Linked DNA regions of Homo sapiens. The protein of the gene in region 2 interacts with the protein of the main gene of each other region in a pairwise test. Each region holds a gene or a part of one and is shown on either strand. Other genes may lie near its edges. The genes, in order: SMO and PLPP7.

Evidence for each region.
Region 1: the proteins of PLPP7 (region 2) and SMO interact in a two-hybrid assay, tested with the Homo sapiens proteins (one large-scale study listed by BioGRID and IntAct).

Annotation. Positions count from the first base shown.
Region 1 is NC_000007.14:129,201,864-129,205,676, reverse strand, and holds part of SMO (protein smoothened precursor), read right to left. Parts: intron 3,055-3,813; exon of another isoform or gene 2,941-3,054; intron 2,294-2,940; coding exon 2,088-2,293; intron 475-2,087; coding exon 265-474; intron 68-264; coding exon 1-67. UniProt on the Homo sapiens protein: G protein-coupled receptor which associates with the patched protein (PTCH) to transduce hedgehog protein signaling. Binding of sonic hedgehog (SHH) to its receptor patched prevents inhibition of smoothened (SMO) by patched.
Region 2 is NC_000009.12:131,306,626-131,309,977, reverse strand, and holds the end of PLPP7 (inactive phospholipid phosphatase 7), read right to left. Parts: intron 2,056-3,352; coding exon 1,691-2,055; 3' UTR 717-1,690; downstream 1-716. UniProt on the Homo sapiens protein: Plays a role as negative regulator of myoblast differentiation, in part through effects on MTOR signaling. Has no detectable enzymatic activity.

The DNA.
Region 1 (3,813 bases), on a different chromosome or scaffold from region 2:
CATTGACGTAGAAGAGAATAACAGCAGGGTAGCGATTCGAGTTCCGCCAGTCAGCCACGAATGTGGCCTAGAAGAGAGAAGTGGGCCATTCTGTGAGGTTAGGGTTATTCTGCTGACACAGACACCCTTAACTGAGCCCCAGACCCTTCTGATCATGACCCTTCCCTGGGGACCCCCACCAAGACCTCTTTGCCCCCCTTCCCTCTGGCTCTCTTCCCACGTTCCAGGCTGAGGGCCCCCCGGGCCTGCCCTCCCGCGGCTGACCAGGGTGAAGAGCGTGCAGAGGCCCGTGACGGCCCCGAAGGCCGCGATGTAGCTGTGCATGTCCTGGTGCTCAGCCTCTGTGAAGAGCGGGTTCTGGCACTGGATGCCGCAGCCCTCCACGTCCTCGTACCAGCTCTTGGGGTTGTCTGTCCGAACCAAGGGCACTTCGCACTGGCCTGAACTGTTGAACTTGATGTTCTGCACCTCATTCTGGCACCAGGGATGGGAAAAGACGGTGTCAAGGCAGCTCAGGGACGAGCCTCTTGTTTAGGGAAAGGTATCTAGGTAGCATGGCAGGGTGGCTGGAGATACACTTCCAGGACCTGAATCCCAGGGCTGGCTTGGCAAATTATTTGGCCTCTCTGTACCTCAGTTTCCCCACTTCTTTCTTTCTTTTTTTCTTTCTTTTTTTAGACAGTCTCGCTCTGTCGCCCAGGCTGGAGTGCAGTGGCGTGATCTCAGCTCACTGCAACCTCTGCCTCCCGGGCAATTCTCCTGCCTCAGACTCCCGAGTAGCTGGGACTACAGGCGCCCACCACCACACCCGGCTAAATTTTGTATTTTAGACGGGGTTTCACCAGGTTGGCCAGGCTGGTCTTGAACTCCTGACCTCATGATCCACCCACCTCGGCCTCCCAAAGTGCTGGGATTACAGGCGTGAGCCACTGCGCCCGGCCAGTTTCCCCATTTCTAAGATGGTAGTACTTACCTTATGGTATGGTTTAAGGGTTAAATGAATAAACATATATTATATATATAGAAAGAGAGAGACAGAGTCTGGCTCTGTCGCCCAGGCTGCAGTGCAATGGCACAATCTTGGCTCACTGCAACCTCCACCTCCCGGGTTCAAGCGATTCTACTGCCTCAGCCTCCCAAGTAGCTGAGAATACAGGTGCCCACCACCATGTCTGGCTAATTTTTTGTATTTTTAGTAGAGACGGAGTTTCACCATGTTGGTCAGGCTGGTCTTGAACTTCTGACCTCATCAAGTGATCCACCCGCCTCAGCCTTCCAAAGTGGTGGGGATAACAGGCATGAGCCACTGTGTCTGGCCAGCCTATTTATTTATTTATTTATTTTGAGACAGAGTCTCACTCTGTAGCCCAGGCTGGAGTTCAGTGGCACGATCTCAGCTCACTGCAACTTCCACCTCCCGGGTTCAAGCGATTCTCGTGTCTCAGCCTCCCGAGTAGCTGGGACTACAGGCGCACACCATGACATCAGGCTTATGTTTGTATTTTTAGTAGAGACAGGGTTTTGCCACGTTGGCCAGGCTGGTCTGGAACTCCTGACTTCAGGTGATCTGCCCACCTCGACCTCCCAAAGTGCTGGGATTACAGGCATGAGCTTATTATAATGGCATTTGGCATATAGTAAACAGGACTAATTAGTATTATTACCATCATTATTACTGTTATTATTTTCATTGAAGACCTCTCCTGCACCACCCAGAACTAGCTCACGTCCCCTGTCTTGGTGGCTCTAGCTGTTTCACACGCTCGCGCCTTAACTCCCAACATACATGAGAAACTTCCTGATAGGCTCCTGTCATCCGTGATGCCCGTAACACCACAACACCCAACAGCCAGTGCTCAAAACATTTTGCTGAACATGTGATCATTGATAAATAAATAGAGAATCCCTAATAGACGGATCCAGCCAGTGAGCTGCAGTTTGAGTTTGTGTCCTGTTGACCCCATGGCTGTAGGCTCAGGGTCTCCAGGAGACAAAGCTCTGGGCTCCCCTGCTCCCCACTGGACCCTGCCCTATACCCGGTCCTGCCCAACCCAGAGAGCCTGGACCTTGTCTCACAGAGCACTCACCGTGCAGCCTTCAGGGAAGCGGTCAGGAGTGCAGCGCAGGAAGTCAGGCCAGCCCCGCTCCCTCTCCACGATGGCACAGGGGCCTCGGGTGGCCTGGCAGAGGGTACGGCTGGGCAGCTCCACCCGGTCATTCTCACACTTGGGCATGTATACGGCACACAGCAGGGGCTGGATCACTGCCCAGCAGCGGGGGGCATTCCGGAGGCCTGGGGGTGGCAACAGCATTGCAGTGAAGGCCCCTCCTCACTCTGACCCACAGACGCAGCTTCACCCCTGTCCTCCAGGCCTTTGCCACACTGCAGCCCATCACTGGTCAGACCTGGCAGGTACAGTGTTTCTCAACAGTGCATCTGGGCAGGACAGTTCTTTATACCATAGGACTGTCCCATGCATTGCAGACACTAGACTCTGCCAACTCAATGCCAGTAGAACCCAGAAGTGATTGTGACAAACAAAAATGCCCCAGCCCTCTACTCTAGGGACGGTGACTAGAAGGGAGCCTGGAGAGGAACCTCTGGGCTGCTGGGAATGTTTTACTTCTTGATCTGGTACTGGTTACATGGGATGTTGGGAATATTCTATCTCCTGATCTGATACTGGTTACATGAGTGTATTCACCTTGTGGAAACCAAGCTCATGATCTGTGCGCTATTCTGTATGCTTACTATCATTTAAGTTTTAAGAAAATAACTGCCACTTCCAGATGCCCTGCTAGGGAGTGGTAATGCCTCTGGTAGAGCTCCCCGGGGTGGATTTACCTTTTCAGGGGTGCACCCAACTCTCACGGGGCCCATTTGCTAGAGCCAGGAGATGTTTCCCTTTGCCCAGACCCCAGAACCCTTGTTCCTCTTACCAAGCGGAGTGAGAGAGAAGAGATGGGGGCTTAAGAAGAGGTAGTCAGAGGAGCCAGGCACTCCAAAGCCAGAGGAGGAAGCAGGAAGTCAGATGGAGAGGAACAGAAGAGGCTCTGTCCAGTGCGGAGAGGGGAAAAATGTTGTCAGCAAGACAGAAACAGGCGGCAATCTCCCAGCACCCGTCCCCAGCCTAGTCCTCCGCCCTGCCCATCACAGAAGCCCTTCCTGAATCAACCCTGCTTCAGCAATATCTATTTCCCAAGCAAGAAGTTGCATTAGGAGAGAATATGAGGATGTGAGAGCCAACATGGGTGCCGGTCACATTTCCAGGCTGGGGGTGGTAGAGACAGGTAACCACTCTTTTCGGGGGAAGGCAACATAGTAGAGAGGTAAGGGGCATGTGCATGGCAACTGCCCAGCCTGGGTCCAAATCTTGGCTCCACTCTTTCCTGGCTGTATGATCTTGGGCAAAGTACTTTATCTTTAGCCTCAGTTGCCTCATCTGTAAAATGGGGATGATAGATTTACCTCATGGAACTGCTGTGAAAAGTGATATAATGCTTTAAATGCCCTTGGCACAGTACCTGTCATGTAGTAAGCGCTCAGGAAATGTTAACTCTTATGATTATTTGTCTGAGGCCTCTGACTGCTCCCAGCCTTCAGAGTATATTCCAGGGTGCAGAGCAAGTTCCTGCCAGTTAAGAAGCAATGTCCTCAGGCAACAGTTCCCACTTGACTCAATTCAGTCACCAGTTGGCCAGGCGCAGTGGCTCACACCTGTAATCCCAGCACTTTGGGAGGCAAAGGCGGGCAGATCACCTGAGGCTAGGAGTTCAAGACCAGCCTGGCCAACAAGGTGAAACCCCGTCTCT
Region 2 (3,352 bases):
AGGGCTATTGAGAGCTGCAGACGAGCGCTCACACTCAAAGTGTGGTTCGGGGAGCTCCGGGTGTCCCCAAGCCTCCTGCCGATCTGTGATAGGACCTGGGGGCTCTTGCCTCCTGGCCCTCACCCCTTTCCTCCCTCTGCCTAGAACATTCTTCCCCTCCTTCCTGGCTCCCTCCACCCATTCCCTCCATCTGGGCTCAGACTTCCCCCTTCTGGGACCTATGCGCTGATGCCCCAAGGCTGGGCTCCAGGGCCTTTTCTCTGAGCCCTCACTGCCCTGCACATCCCTCGCGGCAGCTCTCTTAGGCTTGGCTGTGTTTCACTGGTCACTTGCCTACTTCCTGGCGGACGAGGATCAGGTTAGCCAGGAGTCGGGGCGGAGGGCTTGGGAAGGCCTGAGGCTGAAGTGAGAGAGGGTCTCTGGTCCATCAGCATCACAGTGAGGGCCTCTCAAACGGTCCCTGCCCAGGCCCCAGGTAGCAGCCAGCACAGGGCCTGGGGGCTGAGGGAGTACCAGGCAGCCACCCCAGGGCAAAGGGACTGGCCAGCCTGGTAAAGTCCAGGAGCAGACCAGCTGTGCCCAGAGCCCCCGATCCCTGGCATCATGGCACTGTCTAGGGCCGAAGAATTACCCCACCCCTCCGCCCGTTCCATGTTAATAAGGTGAATGCATCCAGAGCAATTGAATTGCATGAGGAAAAAGCCACACGGGAGAGGGCCATTTGCATGTCATCTGTATTGTCACATGAAATGCACATCCAAAACGGGTGACTTGGAAACGACCTATTAGGTCACACGGAGTCCGGCCCCTGGGGGCCAAAGCCTCATCGATGCCCACGGGCGGTGGCCAGCACTTTCCTCGGGCTGTGGCGTGTGCACCCGGCCTCCCCAGAGGAGAGTCAGCTCACACCCCAGGCCCTTTAGCTCTCTGGCAGCAGCTCCCAAAACGCACTTGAGGAACCAATAATTCCTTGGGGGTTAATAGCTGTTCCCCAAGAAAAGGGTTCTGTGGTCAAATAAGTTTAGAAAACATGGGTTAAAGAAGGTTTAGCAAGAAGCTTTTCTATAGGGCTTGTCAGAGCCTTTACGGCAATAACGGCCTTTGTGAATGTCCAACTTGGGGACAGAGTGTGCAGCACTTCCGAAAGTTATTGAACCACAAAACCCCTTTCCCCCAAAAGCATCTCGCAGGCTGGTGTCCCATGGGCACCCGTTGGAAAGTGCTGCCCTAAGCTGTCGATGACCGCTAATGGCAATGGCACCTGCATCAGGCAGTAGGTTGGGGGCATTTTGGCAGGCGTCGTGCTGTGGCGTGATGGGCACAGCCAAGAACTCAACAGTCATGATGATGAAAGGACAAGACAAGACTCGGCCCCTCCCACCATCCTGATTTTTGCTGTTCCCAGAGCAGAAGCTAAATAGGGCTGTCCCCATGGGTGGGTCCTGGCTGCCTAGAGAGGAGACTTGGAGTCCAAGCAAAGGGGCAAGAGGCCTGGCACTGCCAAACACGCTTGTCTCCGGGAGGGGTGGCCTGGGTTCGCCAGCCTCCAGCCAGGAGGGGAAGATGAGGTGGGGGTGGCCGCTCTGACTCCTGGCCGCTCTGTTCCACCCACGCCCGCCACCTCGCCACCCCCTGCCCCTTCTCTAGGGCCAGCCCTGCCCCCAGAGGCTTGTGTGGGCCGGCGGGCGCTTCACCAGGCAGAGATGAGCATCTGGCAGGTGCTGGAGGGCATCCAGACCAGCTCCACCAGACGGAACTGGAGGTAGCCGATGACAAAGCCGGAGAGGACGTCCGTGACGTGGTGGCGGCCGATCATCACGCGGGACAGGCCCACGCAGAGGGCCCAGAGCACCAGCAGCACACGCAGGGGCACCGCCAGCACCAGGTGGCTGAGGAAGAACTTGGACACCATGGCGGCGCGGCTGGCGTGCCCGGCCGGGAAGGCGTAGATGTCCATGGTGAGGTAGTCCAGGAGGCTGGGGCTCGTCTCGTACGGGCCGCGCCGCTTGATGAGCTTCTGCACGCCGGCCACCGTCATGATGTCCAGGAGCAGGGCTGTTGGGGGGAGACAGAGGCCCCTGGGCCATCAGGGCCACCAGCCAGGCCCAGGCCCTGGCCCCCCACATTTCCACCTCGCCTCCCCTTTCTGCTCCTCACTCAGGCCACTCAGCCACACTGACCCCCAGGCAGGGTCCCCTCTCAGGCTGTTGCCTTTGCTGTCTCCCCTGCCCGGCACATCCTGCCTTCCTGTAGCTACTTCCTTTAGCGGAGAAGCCTTCCCTGACCACGCTGTTTGTAAAAAGCCCCCACCACGCTGTCTCCCCTCACCTTGTTTAATTTTTTCATACAGCTTTTCTCATGCCCTGACATAATACGCATTTTATTTCTTTGGGTTTTTTTTTTTTTTTTTTTTTTTTTTTTTTTTTGAGACAGAGTTTCACTTTGTCAACCAGGCTGGAGTGCAGAGGTGAGATCTTGGCTCACTGGAACCTCCGCCTCCCGGATTCAAGCGATTCTCCTGCCTCGGCCTCCTGAGTAGCTGGGATTACAGGCACCCACCACCACGTCCAGCTAATTTTTGTACTTTCAGTAGAGATGGGGCTTTGCCATGTTGGACAGACTGGTCTCAAACTCCTGACCTCAGGTGATCCACCCGCCTCAGCCTCCCATTGTGCTGGGATTACAGGTATGAGCCACTGCGCCCGGCCCTTTTTCCTTTTTTTTTTTTTTTTGATACAGGGTCTTGCTCTATTGCCCAGGCTGTAGTGCAGTGGCCTGATCTTGGCTCACTGCAACCTCCACCTCCTGGGTTCAAGGAATTCTCATACTTCAGCCTCCCGAGTAGCTGGGATTACAGGTGCACACTACCATGCTTGGCTAATTTTTTGTATTTTTGGTAGAGATGGGGTTTTGCCATGTTGGCCAGGCTGGTCTCCAACTCCTGGCCTCAGGTGACCTGCCCGCCTCAGCCTCCCCAAGTGTTCACCCATTACAGGCGTGAGCCACTGTGCCCAGCCCCATTCCCATTTTTCAAAAATTGAAGCAAAATTTACATCTTGTACAGTGAACCATTTTAGAGTGCACGCTTCAGCGGCATTCAGCACATCACAATGTCAGCAGCCACCTCCTCTCTCTAATTTCAAAACATTTCATCATCCCAAAAGAATGCCCCATACCCACGAAGCAGCCACTCCCCATCCCCTTCTCTCCAGCCCCTGGGACACCACCAATCTGCTTTCCTCTAGAGGATTTGCCTCCTCTAGACACTCCATGTAAATGGAATCAGACAGCATGTGGCCTTTTGTGTCTGCCTTCCTTTCCTTAGCATAATGTTTCCAGCATCCACCCATGT